Homo sapiens: one gene and its partners. The protein of the gene in region 4 purifies or fractionates together with the protein of the main gene of each other region. This does not show direct contact. Each region holds a gene or a part of one and is shown on either strand. Other genes may lie near its edges. The genes, in order: OXSR1, HEBP1, CHORDC1, USP46, PGM1, ME2 and NAPG.

Region 1 (4,214 bases), on a different chromosome or scaffold from region 4:
TTAACTCCCTGCCCCGCCCCCCCCGCCCCTAGCACTAGTAGCTGGATTCAAATTCCAGAGCTTTCTTGTCAGAATCACTATGGCTGTTGTATTGCTCTAGTTAGGTCTCTTTCTACTCATAAATGCATTTGAAAAAAAATTAGTATTAAAGTATCACTTGAGGCAACTCAGGCCTTTTAAAACTATTACTAACATTTTAAAAAAGAGTTCCACTGAATTACCATTAACTCATTCCCCTTGCACATATAAATTCCTAGTCATCTTTCTGTAAGGTCCTAATTGGAGATAGAGGCAGCAAGAGCTATTTAAGAGAATGTGGTAAGGAGAATCTCATTGCTCCTTGCCACTAGGAGCAATGCATTTATGCCATAAATGTGAAAAACATATTTGGTTACCTTTCCTTTACAGAAGCCTACTTAGTATACCTGGTCTCATCTCAAAAATTCTGAGTTACTAGGATGTCTTGACAACTTCATGCTGTTTTAAATCTACATAAAGAATAACACTTTAAGAAAATTATTGTGAAATGTATTAAGCACAGACTATGTATAGCACTCTTCGGTACTGTGGAAAGGTGGATACTGAGAAAAGAGAAAATTAAATGACTCCCTTAATAATCAAGTCTAGGTTGGAAGTTGATTTGAACTATGTACTTACACAGCTAAAAGCAAATTTCAGGTAGTATATACATGCAGAAGTATAAGTTTGTATGTACCTGTGTAGAAAGAACGCAATGCAAGGGAAAATCATTTGGGGCATGTTATATTTGAGATGGGTAGTTCTATTTTAAGCACAATTTCAGTAACATCCTCAAGTATATTATTCATCAAATAGAAGTAAACCCTCTCCATTATTTATATAAAATAGATTTGAGTCCTAAGTGAGCAGGCATATCTGCCCTTAGATATAGTGTTCTCATTTCTCTGTCTTTAAACAAAACCTCCAGGGATCCTGCTTAATCTCAGTGCATGGTGTGATCATCACTGTAACTGTACCTCACCAGTCAGGTTTGAATTTCTGGAGTCATATAGTAACTCTGCTACCAGTATGGACCCAATTCCTTTCCCTATCCTCTCTGCCTACCTAAATCCTGCATATCTGTTAAGTCCTATATAAAAACTACCTCTAAAATTTTTCCTTATTATCCCCATCTCTCATATATTCTTTGAATTCCTATGGAATTTGAGGGAGTATCATGTATTTCATTTTATGAGTCTGCCAAGACTGATCACCAGAGGTAGGCAATGAATTGTGGGCATGTAGGAGTGGGGATAAGGATGAAAAAGGCATCCTGTATCATTTTAATCACACCTCCCTGTGCTCATACAATTTTCCTCTTAGTTTTATATGTTCTTGGTGTGGGAATAAGGATGGGAGTGGGCATATAAGAATCTACTCAAAGGCATGAAATTTTTATATTGATCAGTAAGGGACATAGATTCAAAGGGTTGTAGGACAATTAGATGGTCATTCCGAATTGGTTTTGCTCTGAGCTCTGCAGTGTGAACATATCTGAATACATCATATGATCTATGGGAACAAAACAGACTTTCTTGAGGCACAGCTTTCTTAATATATGTTGGCAGAATCTCTTTGCATAAATTTAGAAATTCTTATTTTATGCATTCTGCTTTCTTTCATAGGAATTCCAAAAAAGAACTAAATGATATTCGATTTGAATTTACTCCTGGGAGAGGTGAGGCATCAAATGGATTGAAAACAAAATAGCTTCCAATTTGTGATTCAATGAAATGTGTTGTGAAGTTTCTGTCCTTTGTGAAGTTTTGCTTTTAAAGGATAATAAAAATTTTCCTGGTTTTGGCGAGTATATGAGTGAGATAAAAATGCAGTTCGTTGACTACTAAACACATTTAGAAAACCTTGTATAATAATACAAACAGTAATAAATATATGATAGCTCTTTACAGCTTACTATAGGCCAGGCATTGTCTTAAGCGTTATCTTATTAAATTCTCACAGCAGTCTACTAAGGAAAAATTATTATCCCCATAGTATCGATGATGAAATCAAGACTTAAAGGCAAAGTAACTTGTTCAAGGTCACACAGCTGGAAAGAGGTATAGCTGGAATTCAAACCAGATCTGTCAGAATCCAAAGTTCATTCTTTATACATGGTTGTTCTCCATGATGGTAAAGAAACAAGGTCTGCAGTCTCCTCTCTCCTCAGACAGAAGCTGAGGTCTGTCATGTACTGTTTCTGGCTGTTGAACTTCACCTTGAACAAGGTGTGTTTTGTTTCTTGCCTTTATTACTCAGTGTTCTAATTTGGGGAGTAGCCAGCAAGTATCTGTTCTGTGTATCATGCTTATTCTTCTTGCTGTCTCACTATCATGAGCAACTAACCACTAAAGAGAAAAGATGCAGGTGTACAGAGGTGTCACCTGTTTTACTTTTTAAACACCAGGCAACATCACATTTTCAGGAATTAATTCAAATTGCTGGTTGCCTGTGTGAATGTGTGGACACTGTCTCCACCGCAGTCCTCCTGTTCCCTCTGAGGGGCTCATTTTCAAGCCCTTGGCAACCAATACCACTGAGTTGGTTGAAGATGAGGTTAATTGGGGATATTCTGTCCTCATCTTTTTAGTTTCTGGTTATACCCATTGCTCAGATTGTACCACCTGGAATAACTAGATAAGAAGAAAAGCCCACCAGAATAAAAAAGTAAATGATTTTAGCAAAAAACTTGGAGTATGATTCCCAAAGAGAAGAGACAAAAATTTTTTGAGACAAAAATTGTTGCCTTAGTTTTTGAGAATAAATCATTCTGGTTTTTTAGCCCTAGAGATGTTCAGTATTCAACATCATGTCTCAGATATTTGCTACCTGGTTTATACAGATTCTGCCCTCTAGCTAGATCTGTGAGAATTCCACTTGAGATAATCTCAGTGGTAGGAAAAGTCTTTGTATGGAAGGAAGGCCCTGCCTGCCTTCTTGGTTCTGTGGATTTAGCATCCAGCTTGGGCCTAGCATGGCACACTGACACCCACATGAGCTGTGAGAGTTAACAGTGGCAAGCACGCACAAAAAACAGAGCACTGTCTTCTTTGTCCTTGCAGATACAGCAGAGGGTGTCTCTCAGGAACTCATTTCTGCTGGCCTGGTCGACGGAAGGGATTTAGTAATAGGTAACTCCATTGCGTTCTGCTCATGTGCTCCTGTGTCTCTGTCTGTATACTTAGTACATAGAAAAGCAGGTTTTTTATTCCACTGAGTAGGTCTGATGGTTCTTGAAATGGTTCTTGGCTTTCCTGAAATTATAGGTAATGGGACAGTTCCTTACACACACACAAAATTTCACCTCTGAGTTTGCTTTGTGACCTCCAATGATGGTAAGTGAAAGCACACCCAAGGTCTTTAGGAGATTAATAGAAATTATGGCAAAAGTCACAAGTTAAAGTAAGCTTGGCCATATCTGATCTGTTTTGGATACCTAATTTTTGTGGCCCAAGTTGAGCAAAAGTCATTAGAGATTTAGTACTAGAAAAGCAGGAAGGAAGAGAGAAGGCCCAGTGAGGCCACAGGTCCATGTTACTGAAGGAAAAGACCATGTCCTTAGACACAGTTTTCCGTGAAAAACCAGATAATAAATAGTTTAGGCCTTGCGGGCCATGTACAGTGTCTGTCACTTTTAAACCACTCTTAGCTTGCCGGAGAACAAAAACAGACCACAGGCTGGTTTGTTGACTTCTGGCCTTGGGCTTTCTGATCCATAAATCAGGAAATCATACCTCTTTTACCTGCATGTTTTTCCTAGGTTAATACAACATTTTAAAGAAAGTTAATTTGACAGTGGTTCAAGGTGTACTACTCAGAAATGAGTTTAAAAGACACTTTCATTAGGGGAGTGATTATTTGATCTGTCTGCTTCCATTTTGATTGTACGGAGCATATTCTTAACTACCATTTAAGCTTTTAAAATATGGTTGAAAGTGGATTTATGTAACTTCTCATTCATTACCTTCTCTGTTTGTATGATTACAGTGGCAGCTAATTTGCAGAAAATTGTGGAAGAACCTCAGTCAAATCGATCTGTCACTTTCAAACTGGTACTCATCCCTTCTTCCTTGTGAAAACATCTTGCCTTTTATACACTGGCAGCTTCTCCAGACCAGCTTCTATATCCCCTGAGTGATGAGAATATTAAAATGTGGTGGATTGTGTTCATTTAGCCTCCCCAGTGCCCTGGGCTG
Region 2 (4,214 bases), on a different chromosome or scaffold from region 4:
AGAAGAAATTAAAAGTCTGGTTCCGGATTCCAAACCAATTTCAAAGCGACCCACCAGCTCCCAGTGACAAAAGCGTTAAGATTGAGGAACGGGAAGGCATCACTGTCTATTCCATGTAAGGAGACAATCCTTCAGGCATCCATGGGTGGCGCTTGATTCCCGTACCACTCCTTGCATCACCTCTGGCAAGCATTCGCGTCAAATTTTTATGGTTGCTGAATTAATTTAAGTAGGAAATGCTGAATCCTAACAGTTTCTCATTTTAATTTCTTCAGGCTGCAGCACACACACATTTGCATTTTATCAGAATAAATGCCTTGGCCAGTTGCCAAATTGATGGGACGAGCTTAAGCTTTGCTTAAGCTTACAGTGAATGTCTACATTAGCCATAGCAGGGTTCTAGGAGACTCAGCAAATATCTTAAGTCAAGCCATGGTCTGGATTCGTGGACACATGGGAAGCATAAAGGGCTGAGGAATACCTGATTTCTACCCCACACTCCCTTTGAATGCCAGAGAGCAGGGAGCATTTGCTAGAGCTGGGCTTCCATCCTCCTTGTTGTTCCTGGATGGTAGTCCTTTGAGCAGAGCACACATCTATTCTCTTGTCATCCTGGTCCTGTTTCCAGGACTTCATGTGGGGTCATTTTCCCTTGACTGTAGAGAATAGCAGGTGCAAATGGTTACTAGTTTCTATCCCTTGTGCTCCAAACTGCCCTCAGAAACCAAGTCTTCTAGATCATTGATGACTCCTCACATTTGTTAAAACACTCCCATGTGACAGGCACCAAACCAGGCTCAGGGAAAGACCAGGATCTTCACCAGAAGTAATCATAGGTGGTTTGGCTCCGCTCAGGAGCAACCTCATGAAAAATTCACATACATATAATATTGCACTGGACTGAGTATTGGTCCACTTCAGGGACCTCCAAACTTGGCTGCCCTGCTGCAACCCTGAACCTGATGGTGGGACCATTTTCCCCGGAGCTGTGTCAATGTTCTGAGAATGTGAGTTTCACCGCTGTGTGTAGTCCTAGGCCAGGTGACTGCAGGGCCCTCCAGAGGACAGTGAATGTAATGCAGCTGGGAGCTAGCACCGGAGCCTCAGCTCCTGTGCTTGTCCTGCAGTCCTCATTCAGACTTCCCAGCTTCCCTTCAGAGGGTGTGGAGAAAGCAAATTAACTTAACAATATCTTTTCCTAGGGTGGAGATGCACCTTGGGTGCAGCATTTAAGGAAGCACTCACTCTCACAGCTGTCCAAGTGCAGGATGGGGACTGAGAGTGAGCGCCTCCTTAAATCTTGTGCCCTGGGTTAGATGTCTGCTTGTCTTTTCCATTCTATTTCCTGTGTTTGGGAAGCAGCAGGTATAATAAAATGAACTTGTATTTTATTTGAATTCCAGCTCTACTGCTTACTAGCAGAATGATGCTTGGGAAGTTAGCCACTTTAAGACTTAGCTTTTGCATTTGTTAAGTGCTGATAATATAACCTCCTATATATGATGTGTGTGTGTGTGCATGTAATGTAACCTTATAGGATTATTGTTAAATATCTTTCAGTATTTACTAAGATACTATTTATGTATTACCTAATGTTTATGACCTGAAGCAGGTTTTGGCAATTACCCCTTCTGTCTGTTCATTCTTATTTCATAAGGAATGAGATAGACATGATTGAATCAGTTCACATTAAGACTTCAAGCAGATGGGGCTAGTTTCTGATCATTTGTTTTACCAGACCCTGAGTAATGAGTGGATATAATTTTTTTTTCTTTTGTCTTTAACTTTTTAGTATGGGAATTTTCAAACTTATAGAAAGGTAGAAGCATATAAGATCATGAAATCATATGTGCCCATCCCCTACCTACAGCAACGATCAGCTCAAGGCCAATTCTGTGTCATGTGTATCTTCACAGCATTCACCCAGCCCTACCCTGGATTATTTTTAGGCAAATTCCAGACATTATATTATTTCATTCATAAATATTTCAGGTAATTACTGAAGATTTTTTTAAAATATAATCACAATACCTTTTTTCTGAAATTTCAATAGTACTTCATTAATTTATAATATAAAATATTCAATGCTCAGATTTCCCCCATTACTTTTTTTTTTTTTCCAACGGAGTCTCTCTCTGTTGCCCAGGCTGGAGTGCAGTGGTGCGATCTTGGCTCACTGCAACCTCTGCTGCCTGGGTTCAAGCAATTCTCCTGCCTCAGCCTCCCAAGTAGCTGGGAGTACAGGAACCTGCCACTGTGCCTAATATTTGTAGTTTTTTAGTAGAGACAGGGTTTCACCATCTTGGCCAGGCTGGTCTTGAACTCCTGACCTTGTGATCCACCTGCCTCGGCCTCCCAAAGTGCTGGGATTACAGGCGTGAGCCACCACGCCTGGCCATCATTTGTTTTAATATTTTGTTAGAATCTGGATCCAAGTCAGATTTTGTAGTACTTTCTTTTTGTTGTTGTTGTTAAGAGACAAGGCCTTGCTCTGTTGCCCAGGCTGCAGTGCAGTGGTGTGATCATAGCTCACTGCAGCCTCAAACTCCTGGGCTCAGGTAATCCTCCCACCTCAGCCTCTCAAGTAGCTGGTACTACAGTTGCACACAACCACACCTGGCTGATGGTACATTTTTAAGCTTTTATTAATCTGTGAATTTCTTTACCAACACAACTTTACATTCTTCCTTTCCATCTGTGGATCATTTGTCTTCTTATTATCTGTACTGGATTTTGCTGATTATATTTCCGTGACATTTTACCACATCCCTCTGAGCCCCGTATTGCCTGTAAATTAGTAGTTGAAACTAAAGACTAGATCAGATTCAAGTTTTTGAAGTTTTGGTGAGAATATTTCCTACGTGGTGGTGTTTACTTCCTTCAGGGGCCCACAGTGTCTGATTGTCCCTGATTGAGTGATGTTGGTGACCATAGTTCATCATTGCCTAGATGTCTTGTTCCATTAGAGGCCATAAAACGATAATGTTCTCTGTTTCTCCTTCTTCTTTTATTACCTGCAATATTTCAGTAAAGAGAAACTTCCCCTCGTTTACTATTTGGCTTCCTTTATTTCATATAGAAAAAGCCAGATACATGCTTACTTGATACCTTCTCTTTATTTACCAGTTTTCAGAATGATAATTTCATTCTGTAACATCCTCAAGGTAAAGTGGTCTGCATCTTCGTTTTTTGAGTGTAATTATAAACATATGAATTTAAACATATTTGATACGTTTCAGTTTGTTACAGATATTATTCTTATTGATGCTCTAATTGCCCCACTGTTGGCCAGCGGGAGCCTCTTCAAGTTGGTTTGTTGGTCCTTTTGACACAGCTCCAGTAGTCGTTGATGGCTCCCTGGCTTGCTGGTATAATGAGATGTTTTGAGCACATCTTAGCATTTCTTGCCCTAGAGCTAGAATTAGCCATTTCTCTAAGGAACGCTGGTTTCTTATGGTGGGAAGGGGTATACGGGTACTATCAAAGGCAGGTCGGTGACCATTTCCTTTTAATTCTCTGAAATCTAAACAGCTGAAAGTGCCAAATGTGGTGTCTAGCCTGGCTCCATGGAATTTTTAACACGGAGTTCTCACACAGCATATGATCATTCCTCAACTCGCCACTTGATGTCACTGCATAGTCAAATGAGCATTCAAAATTACCCTGCAGTGGTTTGTGTTATTTCTGATTCTGTTGAAAGCAATGTTAATGAGATGGTAGAAGGCAAATGTACTACTTCAAATGCAAAAGTACTCTATCAAATAATGCAGTGAGTGCATTCAATGACAAAATTAATTCTAAAATGAAAGCCTGGCGTCCTTCATTCAGTCTTCCTTCTTTATGACCTTGTGAAGAGATGTTTACAAAGGGATTATACATTTATTAGCATCGTTAATTACCGGTGCTTTTAGATGAATAGAATGCTGTGAAAAAAAATAGCACTATCAGAATATGTTTAGTATTCACAAGAGGCAATAGAATTATCCTCACACTTAGACCAGCAGCAACATTCCAGACTACTGTCCTTTCTCTATGCACTTAAGTTAGAGTTTGGCCTTTTCAGCTCATTTCAGCACCAGGTTCTCAATAGGGACCAACAGCAGGAGAAGTTTGATGGTCTTAATGAAACTTTCACGGTTTAAATGAAATGTCTAGATATAAAGGAAAAAGTTGGAAACCAGGAGTTTATTTTCAGGGTAACCTATGCTCCAACC
Region 3 (4,214 bases), on a different chromosome or scaffold from region 4:
CTTTGTTGAACCAGGTCTTCTTCGTGCTACACTTGAGTACTAAATTGTTTTAGAAGCAAACTACAGGACTTAAAAAAAGGTGATTTTTTTTTTTTTTTTTGGCTGCAAGTAGGCACTTATTGTAATTTTTATTCATGCTATGAACTCATGATTTTCCCTTTATTCTCCTTTGATCCTACTTAAATAAATTTATAGAGTATTGAATAATATAGAACCAAGATAAGAACCCTAAGAGACTTTAGATGTTTATTTGTTCATTAGCACTCTGAGTACAGATTATTGCTAAGGAAACTACTCAGGATGATTTTATTCTCTCTCCATCTTCATAGTTAGAGGAGACCATTGAATGCTTTGGCCAGTTTAGCAGTTAGAAAAATAATTGGGAAAAGACAAAACTTCAGTCATGGCTCATTCTTAATCTCTTTAGTAATATAATACAGTCTGTACTATAATAGTATGAGTTAATTTTTTCTTTAAATGATGGGCTGTTATTTTACTTAAAGGGCAGTGAGAGGCCAGGCACTGTGGCTCAAGCCCATAATCCAGCACTTTGAGAAGCCTAGGAGGGAGGATCCTTTGAGCCTAGGAGTTTGAGAACCAATCTGAAAGAGATCCTGTCTCTCCAAAAAAAATAAATTAGCTGGGTTTGGTGGTGTGCTCATGTAGTTGCAGCTACTCAGGCTGAGGCAGGAGGATCTTGAGATTGACTTTTTGAAAAAAAAGGACAAAGGCAGTGAGATGAGAAAAACTAAATATTTTATCCTAAATTCATTTGGTGGTATTATAACAATTATGAGGATATCAGTTTTTACATACTTTTCTTTTTTTTAAGAAGAAAAGTCCCTCTCTTACCCAGGCTGTAATGCAGTGGCATTATAGCTCACTGCAGCCTTTAACTCCTGGGCTCAAGCCATCCTCCTCCCTAACCCTCCCCGGAACTATAGGTGTATGCTACTATGACTGTATTAGTCCATTTTCACAGTTACGAAGAAACACCCGAGACTAAGTGATTTATAAAGAAAAAGAGGTTTAATGAACTCACAGTTCCATATGGCTGGGGAGGCCTCACAATCATGGCAGAAGGTAGAGCGAGTAATAAAGGAATGTTTTACATGGTGGCAGGCAAGAAAAAAACCATCAGAACTTCTGAGACTTATTCACTATCATGAGAACAGCATGGGAAAAAGGCATCCCCATGATCCAGTTACCTCCCACTAGGTCTGTCACACACCATGTGGAGATTAGGGGAGCTAGAATTCAAGATGAGATTTGGTTGGTGACACAGGGAAACCATATCAGTGACCGACTAATATTTTTTATTATTTTGCGGAGACAGGGTTCCACTTTGTTGCCCAGGCTTCAAGCAGTCCTCTTGCCTCAGCCTCCCAAAGTGTTGGGATTATGGGCATAAGCGACCATGCCTTGCCTATGTACTTTTAAAATGCCTCTTTTGTCAGTTTTTTCATCGAGGATATAGAATGAATAGCCTACGATTTTTATTTTTATTGCTGTGTTTATTAATATGTTTAATACTTATTTATTGAGTGGACTTAAATTATGTATACAACACTTAGCCATTATGAAATGTTAGAAGATGTTGTTTTTTAAACCCTACTGAAATTGCCTTGCAATACGATCGTATCTGAATTTACAGATCCATATGCCAGTGTCCACATAAATTATCTCCACTGGTAGAAGTGAGTATGGATTCACTTAGAACTTACTTATATTTCATGTTTATTATGTGCTCAGCATTGAGCTTGGGCATGGGATGTAAAAGTACATTATGGTCCCTTCCTCAGCATTACTCATCTTGAAAACCTTGGATTCCTAGTCTTTATTCCTTTCTCGTTAGTGCAACTGATTAATACTTAAATATGCTGACAATAGCGTGATTATTTGAGACTTACTATTCTAATATAAGGAGCTTTTCTGTTAAGACAGAATGTAGATACATTGTAACAATTATTTATAAAATACCTTTTAACCTTTTAATGGGAATCATTTGATACACAAAGCATTTGGCTTCTCAGAAAGCTTTTAAGGTTATTAATTTGGAGTACAAAGAAATATTTTGGTATATTAATAATGGTAATAAGGTTTCAAAATTCTCCAGCCCAGATGAACCAATGACAAATTTGGAATTAAAAATATCTGCCTCCCTAAAACAAGCACTTGATAAACTTAAACTGTCATCAGGGAATGAAGAAAATAAGAAAGGTAAGATTTTATTTTGTTTTATTGTTAATTATTTTCTGGTACAGTTAAGCAGTTATCCAAAAGAGAGAATAGTAGTTTACTGCATATAAATAGGGAAAAGTCGCACATTGTAGTTAAGAAACTTTTTCTTCTAAATGTCAGATATGATAAACTACAAATACTTCAGAACCTAATAGGTTAATTCCATATGTCTTTATTCAAAACGAGAACCTATATTAAATTTTTTTTCTTTTATGGTTCATTATTTTTTTAAGAATCAGCTAAATTTCTTTGATATTTTAAAATGTTTTCTTGTACATTATACAAAATATATTCACTATTCTCTGACTTTATACCTGGTACCATGGGAGGAAAACACCCTTTCATGATTTATTTTACAAAGTTAAGATACTGGATATAACATTTTGTTATGGAAAAAATTGTGTCCTGCATTGTTGAAGACACCAGGTCCTCAAAAGAAGAAGAAATGTGTCATATATCAATTTGGGGATATAAGCAAATCCTAGTCACAGTCGTTTTCTAAAAAGTATTGTTTTCTGGAAAAACCTAGTTTTTAAGAATGATGCCACAGCGAAGTTCTATTTTAACTTTTTAATTTGATTTTTTTTTCTTTGTTACAGAAGAAGACAATGATGAAATTAAGATTGGGACCTCATGTAAGAATGGAGGGTGTTCAAAGGTATATATCACAAGATTTGTGATGTGTTATGAAGTAAAATTTTAATTTTGAGGAAAGTGCAGTTTGCTGACTCAATTCAACAAACATTTGCATGCATATTATATATTGAACATTATGCTGGGGACTAGGGCTACAATCATGGATAAGAGACTCTGAGTAGCATCATGTCCAGTAGAATAATGAAAATAAGTAATTCCAATTCACTTAACATTTACTGAGCACTTATTATGTGCCAGACATTTTATGGGCTGGAGACATAGTATCAAATAAAGCAAACATTTCTTTTCTTATGGAGCTGATATTCTAGAATGGGGAGAAGAGCAACAAATAGGTAGTTAGATATTACAAAATCAGGATGATAGGAAGAAAATAAAACATACTAAGGAGTGCTTATCAGCAAAGCCCTTCTTGACATAGTAACACTAAATCAGAAATCTTCATGTTGCACTGGATGGATTATGTAAACCTGGGTGAAGAGTGTTCTGGATGCAGTAACATGAGCAGAGGCTTTAGAACTTGGCTATTCAAGGAATAACAAGGTCTGTGGAGCTTGGGCAAGGGTAGCAGGTAAGACAGGTAGACAGAATTATGGTGGTTCTTTTAAGCCATGATGAGGTATTTGGGCTTTATTCTAAGTATTAGGAGAAGCTATTACTTGCTTTAGGGAAGGGTTTTAGAAAGATTCTGTGACTGGTGAATGGTAAATACATGGTGATGCAGCAGGAGTGGAATTGGAAGAAGAGAAACCAGCTAGGATGCTATTGTGGAAGACCAGACAGTGGGATTGGAGAGTAGTTTGTTGAGAAGTGATTAAATGTGGGATGCGGTCAAACATACCAGTAAGCCATTTTCCTGCCTCTTGCTACTTGATATAAAACTTGCATATCCTCCAACATTTCTTCTCCCTCTCCTTTTTTCTCCATCGCTCTTAATCACTTTATATTACTTATTTTGTATACTTATTTTACTTCTGAGCTATACCATCTAACCCCCATGCTGAGTAAAAGTTGTGAGGATAGGGATTTTTTTTCTTTGTTGTATCTTGAATCCTTAGAACAGTGCGTGTAGAATGAATGATAGAATTTGAAAGTACAGAAAGTACAGATGGTTCCGAACTTACCATGGTGTAACTTAAGATTTTTTTGACTTAACAATGGTATTATCAGGCTATAACCACATTGTAAGCAAAGGAGCATCTGCCTGTATTAGCAGGATTTGCTAATGGATTCGATGTGAAGGGAATTCAAGCATCTGGGTGATTGGTGACACCATTAACCAACAAGGTGAAAATGGGGTGGGGGCAGGTTTATACTTT
Region 4 (4,214 bases):
AAGTGCTAGGATTATAGGTGTGAACCACTGTGCCCTGCCACGAAAACATTCTTGAGACGAACTCTGTGTTAGCGAACAACCCTAACAGTAAAGGGTTTTTGGAATATTTCTCTTCTGGGACTATGGCTTGAAGTTTGAGGGATGCTGTAAGTGCTGTACATGGAAGTTTACCCCAATTCTCAGAATGATTCTTTGCAATGGATAGTTTTAAGATCATGGTGATGGGACTCTGTGGTCGCCAAAGCTTCACTTTACCCTCATAGGGCCAACCTTCCTTTTCTTCCTCAAGTTCCAATGTCACTTTTAGAACCCTCAGATACTTTTTAAATTAGCTCAGACTTTGCCTTTTTTTCTGAGTGATGGTGAATTTTAGACATACAGAAATGTGGAATAATAGAGTGAATACTCGTGTACTCCCCACCCAGTGAAGAAATAAAATACTATATATACATTTAAAACCACCTATGAGTCCTTCCTGATCTCATTGCCTCTCCCCACAGAGTGACCACTATTCTGCATTTAGTGTTTATTGTATATTTTTATATTTTTACTAGATTTGTATGCATTCATAAACTAGATATAGTGTATTTTTTCATGTTTTAAACATGCTTTATAATATTAAACATTCCTCTCAGTTTGCTTTTATTGTTTAAATTGTGATTTTGCTATTTATCCATTGAGAGACACATAATCCTAGTTTATTTTAACTGCTGTATAACATTCCATTATATAAATATGCTATGACACATTCATTTTAATGTTGTAAGCAGGTTTACAAATTTGTGAGTGTGCTGTTTTAATGCAATGAACAGTTGTGAACTCATCTCCCTGTGTATAGTATACACAGTTGACAGTTGACAGTTTCTCTGTGGTGTAAACCTGGAAGGGAATTGCTGGGTCAAAGGAATTTGATCGTCTTCTTTAATAAGTTGCCTGATTGCTCTCCAAAGAAGTTATGCCAATTTGCATTCCAACCAAGCAGCGTTTGGGGGTTCCAGTTGCTTCACATGTTTGCAGATATTTGATATTGCTAGACTTGATGTTTTGCCAGTCTGATGGGTGTGACATTGTGCCTTTGTGGTTTAAAATTTGCACTTTTCCTGTTTGCTAGGGGAGGTTGAACATCTTTTCATGTGTTTGTTATGCTGGTTTGTTTTCAACTCAGGGGCCTGAGAACAGTTTTCCAGGTCTTGAAAGTCAGGATTGTAGTTTTGGTTTTGTCTGAAAACAGGGACAATGAAGAAGGGACAGTGAAGAGGAAAATCAAGGAGACCAAAGCAAAAGTCATGAAAGGTAGGGATGGATTGGAAGATGCAGGTGAAAAAAATGATGACAAGATAATCACTGTGGAGGGGTGAAAACTAGTAACAAAAAGATAATAGAGTAGCACTGAGAAGATACCTTGAATTTTGAGAGTAAATTTGGGAGACCTGCCTGTGCCAGCAAGGCCTTGTTCAAGCCACATTTGCTTTGTTTAATTGACATTGGCTTTAGTGAAAATCGTGTCTGGGGCCTGTTCTGGTGAGAACAGCAGCAAAGCTGGACTTGCAGAGTTTTCCTGTTTACCCAGTTGCTTTTTCAAGTTCTTTTAGAAAGGCATTGTGAAACGATGGTCATCTTCCTAAAATACATTTCTCTGTCCTTCAGGTTAGGTACACAGTGCAGGAAAATTTTTATCTGGATCTGCTTGAATATATACTGGTGGAATTACTGTCTTAAATATTTAGAAAGTATTCTCTACACTTCATTTTAATTTTCAGAGTATGATGAGTATTACCTCATTAAACAAAGAAATGTATGGTTTTAGGTTCTTTGGTGTACCAAAGAATGGTTCCCACATGTGCATTCTCTTATTAAAAATTTAGACTCTGGGGTTCAACACCCAGAGAGTTTGATTAAGTAGGTCTTAGTTGGGGCTCTGGAATCTGCCTTTTAAATTAGTGTTCCCTCCTCCTTCTACTCCCTCCACATTCTGTTATAGGTGAGCTGAGGACCATGCTTGGAGAAATATTGCTTCCCTTGGGTAATAACCTCAGCCTCTTAAAAAATATTGCTTAAGAAATTACCTGCCATGTGAAAGTTTTTAAAAAAATGAATGTAAAATTATTTAAGCTAGTAACTTAACTTTTTCTGTTCTTTTTTCTCTTTCTTTCTTTTTTTTTTTTTTTTTTGAGATGGAGTCTCACTCTGTTGCCAGGCTGGAGTACAGTGGCATGATCTCAGCTCACTGCAACCTCTGCTTCCAGGTTCAAGCGATTCTCCTGCCTCAGCCTCCTGAGTAGGGTACTACAGGCACGTGCCCCCTTGCCCAGCTAATTTTGTATTTTTAGTAGAGACAGGGTTTCACCATGTTGCCTGGGATGGTCTTGATCTCTTGACCTCGTGATCCGCCCACCTTGGCCTCCCAAAGTACTGGGATTACAGGCGTGAGCCACTGCACCCGGCCAACTTAACTTTTTCTTGGTATTAAATAGCCAGGTTTTGTATTAGTTTATATATTCAGAACAGAGATTTTCAGCACTGGCTTTATATCATATCACCTGTGAAGCTTTTAAAAGAAATTTTAAAAATAATAATTAAATCACAAAACATTAACATACAAAAAAGCATGAAAAAATAATGTTATATATGTTTACCTACCCTTCAGATTTAACAGATATTAAAATGTAGCCATATTTGGTTACTTTTATTTTTAGACATATTACTGTAAAAACAGCACTAACTCTTTTTAGACTCTTTTACCTTAAAAACAGACACTAACTCAACCCAATCTCTTTCCTTTCTCTTCCTCCCAGAGCAAACCATTTTCCTGAAGTTGATATGGTGTTTACCAAACATGTCTTATACTTTACTTTGTATTTATGAATTCATAAGCAATGGATTGCAACGTTTGTGTGTGGATAAAATCGTGTAGCTTTTTGCAACTGTCTTTCTTTACTCAACAAGTATATTTGAGATTATGTCAACACATAGAGGTCGAGTTTATTCATTCTGACTGCTCTGTAACAGGATTCTTTGACTTAACCATGGTTTACTTATTCATTCTCTTATTTAGGGGCAGTTTGGTAGTTTCTACAATATTCTCTCTGGAAACAGTGTTGCAGCGAATGTTCTTGCTTCTGTCTTCTTTGCTCAGGTGTCTTCATTTCTTTAGGGTATAATCCTGGAAGTCAATATGCTGCTTTTAGGATGCGCCCATCTGCAGCTTTGCTAGGTGTGTCAAATTGCTCTCCAAAGTGGTTCCACCAATTGGAGCTTTATTGACATGCAGTTTCTAGGGTCCCAGTCTCCAGCGTTTCTGACAGTATGTAGATATAGGTAGTCTGGGGTGAATTTTAGGCACCTGCGTGTGTATGTGTGTGTGTGTATTTTAAGTGCCACAGTTGATTCCGATGTGAGCATCCAAGGTTGATAAACCACCATGTTAGACTGACAACTCTATGAGGGCAGGAACTGTATTTATTTGTATTATTCAGTGTTGATTTCCCAGCTGTCAGCACAGTGCCTAGCACATATGTGGTTGGTGCTCAATAAATAAATATTGATAAATGAATGAAGGGATGTAATTTGGTAGAATGGAAGAATTGCCTTGGAGTAAAGCAGTATGCCTCCAATTTTATCATGCATAGGCATTAGCTGGAGGTCTAGTTGAAATGTCAATTTGGATTCAGCACGTCTGGGGCAGGGCGGAGATTTTGCACTTCTAACAAACTCTCTGGTGGTACAGATAATGCTGGTTTCGGGACCATTTTTAGAGCAGCAAGGCTTTGGGAAAAACAAAACAACTTCTATTTTCCATATAGTTGTAAAGTGGAGGAGTTTGGAATTCAGAATCCTGTTTGGTAAATCTCAGATCCTATTTATCTTTTTACAACAAAGGTAGTCAATGAAATACCTTCTTTAAAGCTTTTTGGGGAGCATCAGAAGAGATCCTGCCCATGGAAGCACTGTGTGAGCTATGATGCCTTCATGCTTGTTAGTTTTCATAATTATTCTCACTCTTTTAGTTCATCATTATTTTCCTTCTGTTTGCTCAAAGTGCAAAGCTGTTGGTATTTCAGGATCCAGTGAAATTCTACTTCCATTTTGACCTGCTGTCCACATTTAGTGGGGCACTTTGGGAGGAGTGACATTGGGGAAGGAAGTTGGCAAAAGCAGAGGCCAAATTCACAGCATGGTTTGGTTCTGACTGGGTGCTGTGGTGGTGAGGGGGC
Region 5 (4,214 bases), on a different chromosome or scaffold from region 4:
TGCTTTATAAGCATTTTAAATGTGTCCATTGGGTGGACATGATCATAACATTGGATTTGGATTCAGAGAAATGGATTAGAATTTTATTTCTTCCCCTTACTAGATTGGGGAGCCATTTAGCTTTTCTCTGTACTCAGTTTTGTCATCTGTAGAAATGGGAATAACAGTCCAGCTGTTGAGAGGATTAAATGAATAATGAGTCTGAAAATGTTTTGTTAACTTTGGGGCACTGAAAGCCTAGAAACTTTTTTTCATAAATTATAGAAACAGTTATGCTTAGTCCACATCGACTTTTCTGCCTTGTGAAATAGGTCCCCAAGGGCTATATACTTGTCAATAATTTTTTTAATTTATTCAACAGATATTTACTGTATACCCGATTTCCATCGGGTACTTGGAATTCAGCAGTGAACAAAATACTTAGAATACTTAGTAATTATTCCTTATCATGCGTACTTCTATTTTTAAAAAGCATTAAAAAATTTTTGACAGTAGTACTTTTCACTAATTCCAATTTGCCTTTCCCCCAGTTAGTGTAAAAATCTAACAAGAATTTTTCTGGACCTCAGTATTCCAATTATAGAGAGAAAATATGGTAAAAAGGATATTAGATGAATTGTTTATGTATAAGAAATGAATAGGTGTAATTTCTCTGGACCTCAGTTGCCTGTTCTATAAAATGGGTGAGTTAGACTAGAGAATTTAAAAAATATATCCCAGATTTTATAGTCCGTGATCTCTGGATAGTCAAGAAAGAATTCAACTAAGTAAATTAAGCTCCTTAATCAGAATTATTTTATTAACTTTGGACGGATTCATTGATCTCTTTCTCTCTCACGTTACTGTTTTGTGGAAGGAATAAGTAATAACTACCTGACACCACACAGTAGCCCTGGGAACCAAGGCAAAAAAATCCCTACTTTATAACAGACAGAAAAACCTGGTCATTCAGAACAGCAGTCATGAACTGTCTAGAACCTAGAGTATCATAAAAACAAGGCCATGTCTGTTTTTGTGCCCTAAGCACCCAACTCATAGTAGAGACTGCATAAATACGTTTTGAACCGATAAATGAATGAGTTAACAGGTGAACAATAGCCAGAGTAGAATAAGGTTAGGAGGGGTTGTTCAGAGAAAGGGTCACACCCTTGAATTAGTCACAATCCTCCATATAAAAACTATTTTAACATGATTTTATTAATTATCAAATATAATTGCTAACCAAGTATTACAAATCAAATCCTTAGTACCTGCATTTATGATTAGTTAAAACTCCATTATACCTTCCACTTACTGAACAAAAGCGCTAGGCACTTTTGCATGCATTGTCTCACTTTAGCCTCAAAACAGTTATTGATAAGGTAGCTGAGATTCTGAGAGATAGGGCAGCTGGCCCTGTAGTCACACAATTAATAGCCAATAGAGGCTGGATTCATAGCTCATCTGTCTGATTGCAAAACCCAGACTCTTCTATTCCACCCCTCTGTGCCTAGGGTTTAGAAAACATTTCTCTGGAGTACCCAGAGGTCAAAAATGTAAAGCACAAACACCTGGTTGTAATTTCTTGTTGTTTATCATGTTAACTAGGGGAAAGAGCTGACTTTAAGATTAAGGGGACTGTTTGGCCCTTGATTCATAGAATCCTGGAGCCAGAATAGGCTGGCCTTAATTCCTCAGCATTTCTCATGTCTCAGAGGTGTCATCTTGCATATATGATATCTATTTCACGATTACAAATAAATATAGACTCTGCTATCTTGAGCTTCTAAAAAATAACTCTCTCAAGAGGGTGTATGCCACTAGGTCAAGAAAAGCCACCTGTACAAGTCTTTAACATCATAAGAAAGAAGTCAAAAAGAATTCTTGAAGGAAAACTCATCTTTATAGAATTTCATTTGTGATGCACTTTTTTCCTTGGCCCTTTTTCATCCGCACTGGGCCTCTTCTGTCAGGGTGAACCCAAAGGACCTTGGACCAAAATCCACTGCCACTGAAAGGAGGGAGGCAGAACTTAAAATAAAACAAAATTTAAAAAAAAAAATTGGGAGAGCATCAGGATAAACAGCTAATGCATTTGGGGCTTAATTCCTAGGTGATGGGTTGATAGGTGCGGCAAATCACCATGGCACATTTACCTATATAACAAACCTGCACGTTCTGCACATGTATCTTGAAACTTACTAAAATTAATGAAAAAAAAAAAGGCATTTTAGATGTAAAGAGTCAGTGTTTGGCGTCTTCATCTGGTCGGTGAAAACTTGGCCCTGCTTTAGGAAGCTCCTGTGGAGCTGGAACTCTGCTTAGTCAAAATCTCAGCAGCCTCAGGCAGGTCTCAGGCTGGGAGCAGGCCCAGCATTCACCCCAGAGAAGCCCAGGGAGCTTGGAGGAGAAGTGCCTGAGTCACGTGCTCCTTTCAAGAGAGTTCTCCAGAGATAACATTGCTTTTCATTTTACCTCCTCAGGATGTGGTGACTAAATGTTAGATAGCATCTTTCAAAAGCCTTTGAAACATCTTAGAGCTTTATTCTGTAGAAATGCCAAGATGGGTGTTTTCTGCTTATTCAGAAGCTCATAACCCTTCCCTGAAATCCTCCAAACCCTTCCTTTCATCCCTGGCCTGTTCCATCCCCAGTGACTGACAGGCCTGTATTTTTTTTGCCAGCTTCTTCTGAAGTTAGATAGTTTTGCGGGAGGGCCAAACAAATGATGAAGAAAGTGCTGACTGATAGGCCTTGGTGTGATCTGCAGTCAGCCCGTGGGCCTCAACTTCGTGACTTCTTCCAGGTATGATTACGAGGAGGTGGAAGCTGAGGGCGCAAACAAAATGATGAAGGACTTGGAGGCCCTGATGTTTGATCGCTCCTTTGTGGGGAAGCAGTTCTCAGCAAATGACAAAGTTTACACTGTGGAGAAGGCCGATAACTTTGAATACAGCGACCCAGTGGATGGAAGCATTTCAAGAAATCAGGTAGAAACAGACCGGTGTGTAAGTGAGAGAGAGACCTCAGAGCTTCATCTCTGACATCTCAAGGGAAAAATTAAAAAGTTCCTGTTGGCTATTTTTCTTTTGCTGCTGTGTTTTTCTAGGGTAGCTGTTCTTACCTGGTTTTCTGCTGTCCCACGTGACTCTCACATGCACTCGTTGGGACAGTGGTTTATGCCCTTGTTCTGTGCACTGTCCAGTACCCTCATTCTGGGATTCTTAACCTGGACTCCAGAGGGATTTTTGCACTCTCTGGAATGATATGCAAGATGATGTGTCCATTGTACATGCAGAAAGGAGCCCCAGAATCTAAGAAAGAGGGAGAACTGTGGGAACTTAGATGTCAACTCCTCTCTTTTCTGTCAGCAGATTATAGCAGAGTGACAGCATGTAAGTGGCATTATACTTATACGTTTCTCTCGTATGTTCTAATTTCTAAAGGAGAGAAAAATAGATGAGGCATTCCCAGACTTAGAAACGTTGACCATCGTCATTCGCAGCACATGAGTGGCACCCCACCTAACACAGCAGTACCTGGCAAGACGCCACAGTTTAGGACCTGGAGCATCTCTAGATGTGGACAGAATTGTTAGTGCTTCCCTTACTGTGTGCCGGGTACCCTAGGCTGCAGGCTGGGTCAGGCTTTCTCCTGGCTTCTCATGAACACTTACGCACCAGGGTTCTCTCACCTCTGCTTCTGTTGCCTGTTGTCACAGAGTAAACTCATCTCTCACAATTCATAATAGAATAAAGAGCAGGATGAAGATTCTGTTACAACCTCCCAGTTTACTTTTTTCCAATTGACCCAGATTTTTGGCCTGGTCCTTGTCAAGGCATCTCATAGGGTTTGGAAGGGCCGGGCCGTGGGATTTACTGGAGGCTTCCCTCTGGGGAGCAGGCAGTGAATGGATGGATGGGCCACAGCAACCCTCAGTGCCTGGAGTCTCCCCTCCTCAACTTCTAGCACAAGTGGTTTCTCATCCTTGTGCCTGTTTGCCATTTGTGAGAACTTGGGGTCCAGTTTGGATGATTGTAAATTATGCCTGAGATAATTAGAAGAGAGACCTGTGGTTGAGGAAGAAAGGGGTGTAGAAAAGGAGTGGAGCTGAGGGATGGCAGAGTGGGACAGAAGTTTGTGTCATTAAGCCTTCAGAGACAGAAGGGAAGTCAAGGAAAAGTAAATCCCAGCTCTGCAGTGCCTCTGGCATCTGCCAGGAGGGAGAAGAGGTGT
Region 6 (4,214 bases), on a different chromosome or scaffold from region 4:
CTTAGGAAGACCTCATAGTGTAAATGCATTTTTGAGAGGAACTAGAAAGTTTCTAGGAATAATGGTAGATTTGATTTTTGTTTTATATTTGAGTTTATGGACATGATGAAGATAGAGTTGGAAGGTATGGGTTGAAGAGGAAAGTAAATGAAAATGAAAAGACATTTCTATTGTAGAAACAATGTGTAACTCATAATGATGTCTTTTTATTTCATCTTTAATATGCATTGACTAAAAAAATACTGTATTTTATCTCAAAATTTAGGGACGGAAAGCAAAAATAGATAGTTATCAGGAACCATTTACTCACTCAGCCCCAGAGAGCATACCTGATACTTTTGAAGATGCAGTGAATATACTGAAGCCTTCAACTATAATTGGTAGGTAAAGTTTTTCTGATAAATAATTTTACTCCCTAACTGTATGTTGCCAGTCATCATTACCATGTAGGATTACTAAAAATGAATTGGCAGTTTTACCTAGCTTTCAGCATGTACAATGTTTTCTGTGATAACTTTTTGGTTACCATGCATGAAATTCAGTTACCAGATGTTGCTTTATACTTTTAGGTCCTAGACACTGTGTAGTCGATCATGATTTGCTTTTAGAGTTGGTATGACTGTTGGACTCAAAACATGAAAAAAACCAAAGCCATTTGCAGATTTTACCAGGAAAATTCTATGCAGACTCAAAGTTTTCGTGGGCAACAAAGCTGAAAACTTTGAGTGTGTTTTGAATCAGGCATTGCATAGATGCCATCAGACTATGTCATCATGGCATTACATTCTCAGCAGAAAATGTAAAAGTGTTTAAAAGAGGAGCTATTTAATTTGCTGTATAGCTGTAAGTTTTTTTGTTTTCTTGTTTTTTGTTTTTTTTTTTGAGACAGAGTCTCACTCTGTCACTCAAGCTGGAGTTGGCTCACTGCAACTTCCACCTCCCGGGTTCAAGCAATTCTCTTGCCCCAGCCTCCCAAGTAGCTGGGATTACAGGTACCCGCCACCACGCCCAGCTAATTTTTGTAATTTTAGTAGAGATGGGGTTTCACCATGTTGACCAGGCTGGTCTTGAACTCCTGACCTCAGGTGATCCACCTGCCTCGGCGGGTGAGACTCCATCTCAAAAAATAAATAAATAAAAATAAACAACCCCCCATTTTCCCCACTCCCCACCCCCTAACAACCACCATTCTACTTTTTGTCTCTATGAATTTAACTACCTCATATAAATGGAATGACATGGTATTTTTCTCTTTGTGACTGGCTAATTTTATTTAGCATAATGTCAAGTTTCATCCATGTGGTAGCAAGTTTTATCTTCCCAATTAGAGTGATGAAGATAGTCATATACTCTTTTTAAAAATTGGTTGGGCATGGTGGCTCACACCTGTAATTCCAGCACTCTGGGAGGCCGAGGCAGGCGGATCACCTGAGGTCAGGAGTTTGAGACTAGCCTGGCCAACATGGCAAAACCCCATCTCTACTAAAAATACAAAAATTAGCCGGGCGTGGTGGCACACACCTTTAATCCCAGCTACCTGGGAAGGTGAGGCACGAGAATCACTTGAACCCAGGAGGGAGAGGTTGCAGTGAGCTGAGATTGTGCCACTACACTCCAGTCTGGGCGACAGAGCGAGACTCTGTCTCAAAAAACAAAAAGTTAAAAGAATAAAATTTCCCATAATTTACTATGTGTATAGTAGACAATAAATATTTAAGTGAGAACTTTCAGCATCTTACTGTTTTTTCTTTTCAGATTTGAGATTGTGTTCTCATAGATTTTGCATTGCTGAGATAGTGCTATCTTTGTAATGAGATATTACCTGTGTTTTTATTATTGTAGGCCTATTGTAGAAATGCTATTGATAAGCATTGCTTTTATACCTATAATGAAGTTGCTGTTTTTCCCCCTTACTTATTACAGGAGTTGCAGGTGCTGGCCGTCTTTTCACTCCTGATGTAATCAGAGCCATGGCCTCTATCAATGAAAGGCCTGTAATATTTGCATTAAGTAATCCTACAGCACAGGCAGAGTGCACGGCTGAAGAAGCATATACACTTACAGAGGTATTAATAATCACATGAATTGATATGTATATTATTTTCCCTCCACTAGCTTATTAGTTATACATTCTTACACCATTGTTCTAATGGTTTCCCTAGAGATTACAGCATGCATCTATGGGTGATCAAAGTCTGATATTAATTATTGCTTATACCAATTATGGGAAACAGGTACTTTATAACTCCACTGTAATGCCCTCACACTGTTTGCACTATTGTTGTGAATTTTAATTTTCTATGTATTTTAAACTCAAAATACATTATTGTTATATTTTACAAAAATTATTCAGATTTACCTACACTTTAATTTATTTATCACTATTCTTCCTGCAAGTGCTTCTACCTAGGATCATTTTCCTTCTACCAGAAGAATTCCTTTATTTAAGTGTAGGTCTAATGAATTCTCTTGGTAATTTATTTTGCCTTCATTTTGAAGGATATTTTCACTCTGCATAGACGTAAAAGTTGGTAAATACTTGAGCATTTTGAAGATATCATTTTACTGTTTTCTGACTTTTGTTTTCTTTTTGATGATATAGCATTGTCTTAGGTTTTTAACAGTTTGACTATGGCGGACATATGCGTGGTTTTCTTTGTATTTATTCCACATGGGGATTATACTGCTCCTGAATCTATGGCTTGATGTCTGTTTTTGGTTTTTGTTTTTTCTGTTTTGAAAAAATATCAGCCAGTATCTCTACTTTGGCCACATTGTCTCTCTCATCTTATGGGACTCTAATTATATGGTTAGAGATATATCTCATTTATCTTTTACACTGTTTTCTATATTTACTATCTCTCTTGCTTTCTGTGTTTCAATCTGGTGATTTCCTTTGGCCCTATTTTCCAGTTTGCAGATTCTCTGTTCAGCTGTGCTCATCTGTTGTTAGGTTCTTAATTTTAGTTGCTGTATTTTTTCATTTGTAGAATTTGTGTTTTATCTGTATAGTAATTTATTAATTTAGTAACAGACTTAAAATCATGTACTGTAGAAATAATCAATCTCTAAATACTGCTTTCTTGTACTCACATTTCATGAAACTTTTTACTCTCTTCAAATGCATCTTCACCATCAGTGTTTGTCTTTTCTAAGGCTGTTTTTTTTGAGTCATCTGGCGCTGTGGAGAACAAATTTTTATTTACATCCGAACTGTTTAAGATTCACTACTTTTAGATCTTTGACACTACCACGGGATTATAGCCCAATTACAAATATCTGCCTATAAATCACTTGACATTTGGGTTTTTTTCCTACCATTCTGTAAGGATGTAGTTGTAATCTCCACAATTACTTTCTATATTGTTGTGGTAAGTGATCTAAGTGGCTCTAGGAAGTGATTTTTAAAGGCTTGTTTACAATGATGTCTAGCAGCTATAATTGCTAGACTACATCCTTGAGAGTAAGTAATAAATCTGATACATTTTTTTAATCTTCACTCCTTTAAAACAACGTTTTTTATAGTAGAAAAGTATTACAGTGTATCTCTCAAAAGCTAAGGATTCTTTTAAAAATATAACCACAGGGCCGGGCACGGTGGCTCACGCCTGTAATCCCAGCACTTTGGGAGGCTGAGGTGGGCAGATCACGAGGTCAGGAGATCGAGACCATCCTGGCTAACATAGTGAAACCCCGTCTCTACTAAAAATACAAAAAAAATTAGCCAGATGTGGTGGCGGGTGCCTTTAGTCCCAGCTGCTGGGGAGGCTGAGGCAGGAGAATGGTGTGAACCCACGAGGCGGAGCTTGCATTGAGCCGAGATCGCACCACTGCACTCCAGCCTGGGTGACAGAGCAAGACTCCATCTCAAAAAAAACCCCAAAAAACCATATATATATATATATATATATATATATATACACACCACAGTACTGTTATACCTCATAATTTGAACAATAATTATATCTTGTCATTTAATTTTTTTTTTTTTTTTTTTTTTGAGACAGGGTCTCTCTTGGTTGCCCAGGCTGGAGTGTAGTGGCACAGTCATAGCTCACTGCAGACTCCAATTCCTGGCTCAAGTAATCCTCTTGCCTCAGCTTCCTCAGTAGCTGGGACTACAGGCAAATACCACCACACCCAGCTAATTTTTTAATTTTTATTTTTGTAGAGACAAGGTCTTGCTTTGTTGGCCAGGCTGGTCTCAAATTGCT
Region 7 (4,214 bases), on a different chromosome or scaffold from region 4:
TATATCCATTGAAATAAAGCTTTTCTGGCCAAACATGCAACTGAATTGGTATTTGGTGCCGCAAGTTAGGTTATTAACCACAGTTCCTTTGAAACCATAGAGTTTCTCTTACGGCCAAAGAAGCTGGGGATCTGCTCTGGTCTTCTTATGTCTCATTTTCCTCTGAGAATTAGGAAGCTCCCAGGTGGCTGTTACATTCTTAGTGTACTTCATGCCTGTTTAAGAAATGCTCAAACACTCTAATTCTCACAGCCTCAGTTTATATTACAACAGCTGTACTAAGACTTGAATCTTCATCAAAAGTTATTATTCAGGCATCATTTCCATTGCTCAAGTATCTATTTAATTTGAGGGTTGGAAAGGCACTACTTTGAATGAAAGAAAATTAACTTAGTGGATAGGGAAACAGATGAAGGAAAATGCTTTCTGGCATTGTCTTATATTTAAATTAAATGCCTTTGGACACTGTTGGGAGCACAGGACCCCTGAGCTACGTGGTCCACAATTCTGTGGGCTAAAATTTCTACCAATTTGTCATACAAACCTTCACACTGATTCACCAGAAAGGCTTGGGGAGTGCCATTTTGTAGACATATGCACAAGGGAAGCCACAGAAACTTGTTGGATCAACCTTTGGTTCTGTCACTTGATGACTGCTGTGATTTCATATCCTGTTTGCTCCACTGGCACACAGCCATTGAAAATAGGCATATTTATGGTGGAGGGTATAACTTTCAAGTAGGCAGCTCATCATTTTTTATGGAGAAGTATCAATATTGTGGTTGGACCTCTTACTCACAGCCTCACTTGATTTTACGCAAAAACAGGAAGATGTAGTTGCTAATTTTTAAACAACAAATAGGACTCGGATGCCATTTTTACTGCCTTCTAATGTATTTTTTGCTCTATCTACTGGGTAAAACTCATGACGAATAGTTCCTGTGGTTTTTTTATCCTCCCAAATGCTTTTATGTTGTAGATTCACATTATATATGTAATTAGTGGGTAGGTATATTTGGGGAGGAAATACAGTTGACCCTTGAACTACCCAAGGGTTGGGATGCCAACCCCTTGTGCAGTTGAAACTCTACATATAACTTTTTACTCCCCAAAAACTTTACTAATAGCCTGTTTTTGTTTTTTTTTTTTGAGACAGGATCTTGCTCTGTTGCCCAGGCTGGATTGCAGTGGCACAATCATGGCTTACTGCAGCCTCAACCTCCTGGGCTCAGGCGATCCTCCCACCTCAGCCTCCTGAGTAGCTGGGACTATAGGTGCATGTCACCATGCCCTGCTAATTTTTTAATTTTTTTGGTAGAGACTGGTTCTCGCTGTTTTTCCCAGGCTGGGCTCAAACTCCTGGGCTCAAGTGATACTTCTGCCTCAACCTCCCAAAGTGCTGGGATTATAGGCGTGAGCCACTACCCTACTACTGACTGGAAGTCTTATAAATAATATAAACAGTCAGTTAGTACATATGTTGTATGTTGTATGGAATATGTTTTATACTGTATTCTTAGAATAAAGCTAGAGAAAAGAAAATATTAAGAAAATCGTAAGGAAGAGAAAATATATTTAGTGTTCTTTAAGTGGAAGTAGAGCATCATAGGGCTCTTCATCCTCATCATAGTCTTCACGTTTGGGCTGAGGAGGAGGAAGAGGAGGAGGAGGAAGAAGAGGGGTTGGTTTTGCTGTCTCAGGTGGCAGAGGAGCAAGACAGTCTGCGTATAATTGGACCAGCACAGTTTAAATCTCTGCTGTTCAAGGTTCAGTTGTATTCTTTAAAAGCCAAAATGACCCTCAGGACTAATGTGTCTGAGAGAGATTTTGTTAGGTTTACCTCCCCTGTTCATTCAGATATTTTTCAGCAGATATTGTAGACTCGGATTCTTTCATTGACTTTTGGTTTTATAACAAAAAAAGTATTGTTTTTATTTTTTCACTGAGGTTTGGAAATGCATTAGCATTTCATTCTGCTTGAGTGAATGATAGCAGTCTTATTTCATACAGTGTCTTTCAGTCTGTGTTATTGTTAGTTTCCATAGCTAAATAATAAAGTTATGTTTTGGGGTTGGCGAAAATGAGACCAGTTTTGTTAAGGGTATCCTAATGAATTTGTCAACTTAGCAAGGGACTGAATAGGCAGATTTGTAAACCACCCATGAGATGTCAGTGTGGAGCCTACCTTAAGATACAGCAAGTCAACACTAAATAAGTTGCTTATGTAAACTTTATAACTAGCTTTTAAACGGTGTTTTTTTTTAAGTTTATTTTTAAAATGTTTGATTTGGAGATATTAGACATTAGGACTGCATGATCCTGAGATGTGTAGATTAATAGTAAGATACAGAATTTATTAGTCATGGAAGAGGGTTGCAAACTCAGATGAACTCAGGGTGTAGAGGAATAACTAAAATGAATGAGCAGCTGGGACGTGGAGGGCATTTGGAAGTGAAGAGCGGGGAGAAGCGCCAGGAGGTGCATGCTCATGTGGCGGGACAGTGCTGCCCAGCCCCAGCCTGTTGCCATACAGGGATGCAAGCCTGCTGATGCCGTAGCTTTTGATATTTTTTTGAAGAAAGCCATAAAACAATTTTCATGAAAGTATCTAATTTAAAAATACTGCATGGATCAAGCAAAACACACTTGGAAGTGAGATAGAGTCATTGGGCTGCCAGTTTGTGATCCTTGGCATAGGTCTTGTATGTAGTAGGGACTTGGTAAATGTTTAAAGAATAAGAAGTGCTTAGAAAACAGTAAAGAGCAAGGTTTTTGGTTTTTTCTATTTTCATAGATTTCCCAAAGGTCTGTGAAGTGATGATGAACTCTGTGTAGAAATTACCTGGTACCTTTTTGATTGGGTTTAATGAAGCTTGATTGGGAGAGTAATCATGTGAAGCATTTCATTTTAAATATCTTTATTGCTATACAATGTATTTGAGTCATTTACTTTCATGAATTAGGGATAAAATAATTGTATTTCATATCCTTTGCCCACTTTTTGATTGGGTTTTTTTTTTCTTGTAAATTTAAGTTCCTTGTAGAAAAAGAAGACATACAGCCAAGAAACATGAAAAACAGCTCATCATCATTGATCATTAGAGAAATGCAAATCAAAACCACAATGAGATCTCACGCCAGTCAGAATGGTGATGATTAAGAAGTCAGGAAACAATAGATGCTGGCCAGGCTGTGGAGAAATAGGAAAGTTTTTATACTGTTGGTGGGAGTGTAAATTAGTTCAACCGTTGTGGAAGACAGTGTGGGGATTCCTCAAGGATCTAGAACCAGAAATACCATTTGACCCAGCAATCCCATTACTGGGCATATGCCCAAAGGAACATAAATCATTCTATAGAAACGTATGTTTATACAGTAAACACGTATGTTTATTGTAGCACCATTTACAATAGCAAAGACATGGAACCAACCCAAATGCCCATCAGTGATAGACTGGATAAAGAAAATGTGGTACATATACACCATGGAATACTATGCAGCTGTAAAAAAGAATGAGATCATGTCCTTTGCAGGGACATGGATGAAGCTGGAAGCCATCATTCTTGGCAAACTAACAAACACAGGAACAGAAAACCAAACACCGCATGTTCTCACTCATACGTGGGAATTGAACCACAAGGACACATGGACACAGGGAGGGGAACATCACACTCCTGGGCCTGTCGGGGGCTGGGGAATAAGGGGAGGGAGAGCACTAGGACAAATACCTAATGCATGCGGGGCTTAAAACCTAGATGATGGGTTGATAGGTATAGCAAACCACCATGGGACATGTATACCTATGTAACAAACCTGCACATTCTGCACATGTGTCCCAGAACTTAAAATAAAAAATAATTGCATTTCAGATTGTTAACTCTGTTTTTCTTTAATTGATGCATTTGCTGACCTGTCTACTGTATCCTTTGCCCAAAGGAGATGCAGAAACTACCAGAGGCCGTTCAGCTAATTGAGAAGGCCAGCATGATGTATCTAGAAAACGGCACCCCAGACACAGCAGCCATGGCTTTGGAGCGAGCTGGAAAGTGAGTGTGAGATGGACAAGTCTCTGCATAGAAGTCTTGTCTTTTTGTTTTAAAGAGGTCCCTGAAAAACAAGTTTTCCATTTCTCATATAAGACATGTTTTCTTGTCTGATTCAGGCTTATAGAAAATGTTGATCCAGAGAAGGCTGTACAGTTATATCAACAGACA

The links.
Region 1: the proteins of USP46 (region 4) and OXSR1 purify together in Homo sapiens (co-immunoprecipitation; one large-scale study listed by IntAct). This does not show direct contact.
Region 2: the proteins of USP46 (region 4) and HEBP1 purify together in Homo sapiens (co-immunoprecipitation; one large-scale study listed by IntAct). This does not show direct contact.
Region 3: the proteins of USP46 (region 4) and CHORDC1 purify together in Homo sapiens (co-immunoprecipitation; one large-scale study listed by IntAct). This does not show direct contact.
Region 5: the proteins of USP46 (region 4) and PGM1 purify together in Homo sapiens (co-immunoprecipitation; one large-scale study listed by IntAct). This does not show direct contact.
Region 6: the proteins of USP46 (region 4) and ME2 purify together in Homo sapiens (co-immunoprecipitation; one large-scale study listed by IntAct). This does not show direct contact.
Region 7: the proteins of USP46 (region 4) and NAPG purify together in Homo sapiens (co-immunoprecipitation; one large-scale study listed by IntAct). This does not show direct contact.

Annotation. Positions count from the first base shown.
Region 1 is NC_000003.12:38,248,323-38,252,536, forward strand, and holds part of OXSR1 (serine/threonine-protein kinase OSR1), read left to right. Parts: intron 1-1,643; coding exon 1,644-1,696; intron 1,697-3,080; coding exon 3,081-3,149; intron 3,150-4,005; coding exon 4,006-4,070; intron 4,071-4,214. UniProt on the Homo sapiens protein: Effector serine/threonine-protein kinase component of the WNK-SPAK/OSR1 kinase cascade, which is involved in various processes, such as ion transport, response to hypertonic stress and blood pressure.
Region 2 is NC_000012.12:12,983,053-12,987,266, reverse strand, and holds part of HEBP1 (heme-binding protein 1), read left to right. Parts: coding exon 1-115; intron 116-2,624; exon of another isoform or gene 2,625-3,923; intron 3,924-4,214.
Region 3 is NC_000011.10:90,209,221-90,213,434, reverse strand, and holds part of CHORDC1 (cysteine and histidine-rich domain-containing protein 1), read left to right. Parts: intron 1-14; exon of another isoform or gene 15-79; intron 80-2,116; coding exon 2,117-2,220; intron 2,221-2,840; coding exon 2,841-2,899; intron 2,900-4,214. UniProt on the Homo sapiens protein: Regulates centrosome duplication, probably by inhibiting the kinase activity of ROCK2. Proposed to act as co-chaperone for HSP90. May play a role in the regulation of NOD1 via a HSP90 chaperone complex. In vitro, has intrinsic chaperone activity.
Region 4 is NC_000004.12:52,649,049-52,653,262, reverse strand, and holds part of USP46 (ubiquitin carboxyl-terminal hydrolase 46), read left to right. Parts: intron 1-4,214. UniProt on the Homo sapiens protein: Deubiquitinating enzyme that plays a role in behavior, possibly by regulating GABA action. May act by mediating the deubiquitination of GAD1/GAD67.
Region 5 is NC_000001.11:63,648,885-63,653,098, forward strand, and holds part of PGM1 (phosphoglucomutase-1), read left to right. Parts: intron 1-2,784; coding exon 2,785-2,968; intron 2,969-4,214. UniProt on the Homo sapiens protein: Catalyzes the reversible isomerization of alpha-D-glucose 1-phosphate to alpha-D-glucose 6-phosphate. The mechanism proceeds via the intermediate compound alpha-D-glucose 1,6-bisphosphate.
Region 6 is NC_000018.10:50,923,833-50,928,046, forward strand, and holds part of ME2 (NAD-dependent malic enzyme, mitochondrial isoform 1 precursor), read left to right. Parts: intron 1-265; coding exon 266-380; intron 381-1,923; coding exon 1,924-2,066; intron 2,067-4,214.
Region 7 is NC_000018.10:10,535,826-10,540,039, forward strand, and holds part of NAPG (gamma-soluble NSF attachment protein), read left to right. Parts: intron 1-3,107; exon of another isoform or gene 3,108-3,146; coding exon of another isoform or gene 3,147-3,149; intron 3,150-3,936; coding exon 3,937-4,046; intron 4,047-4,162; coding exon 4,163-4,214. UniProt on the Homo sapiens protein: Required for vesicular transport between the endoplasmic reticulum and the Golgi apparatus.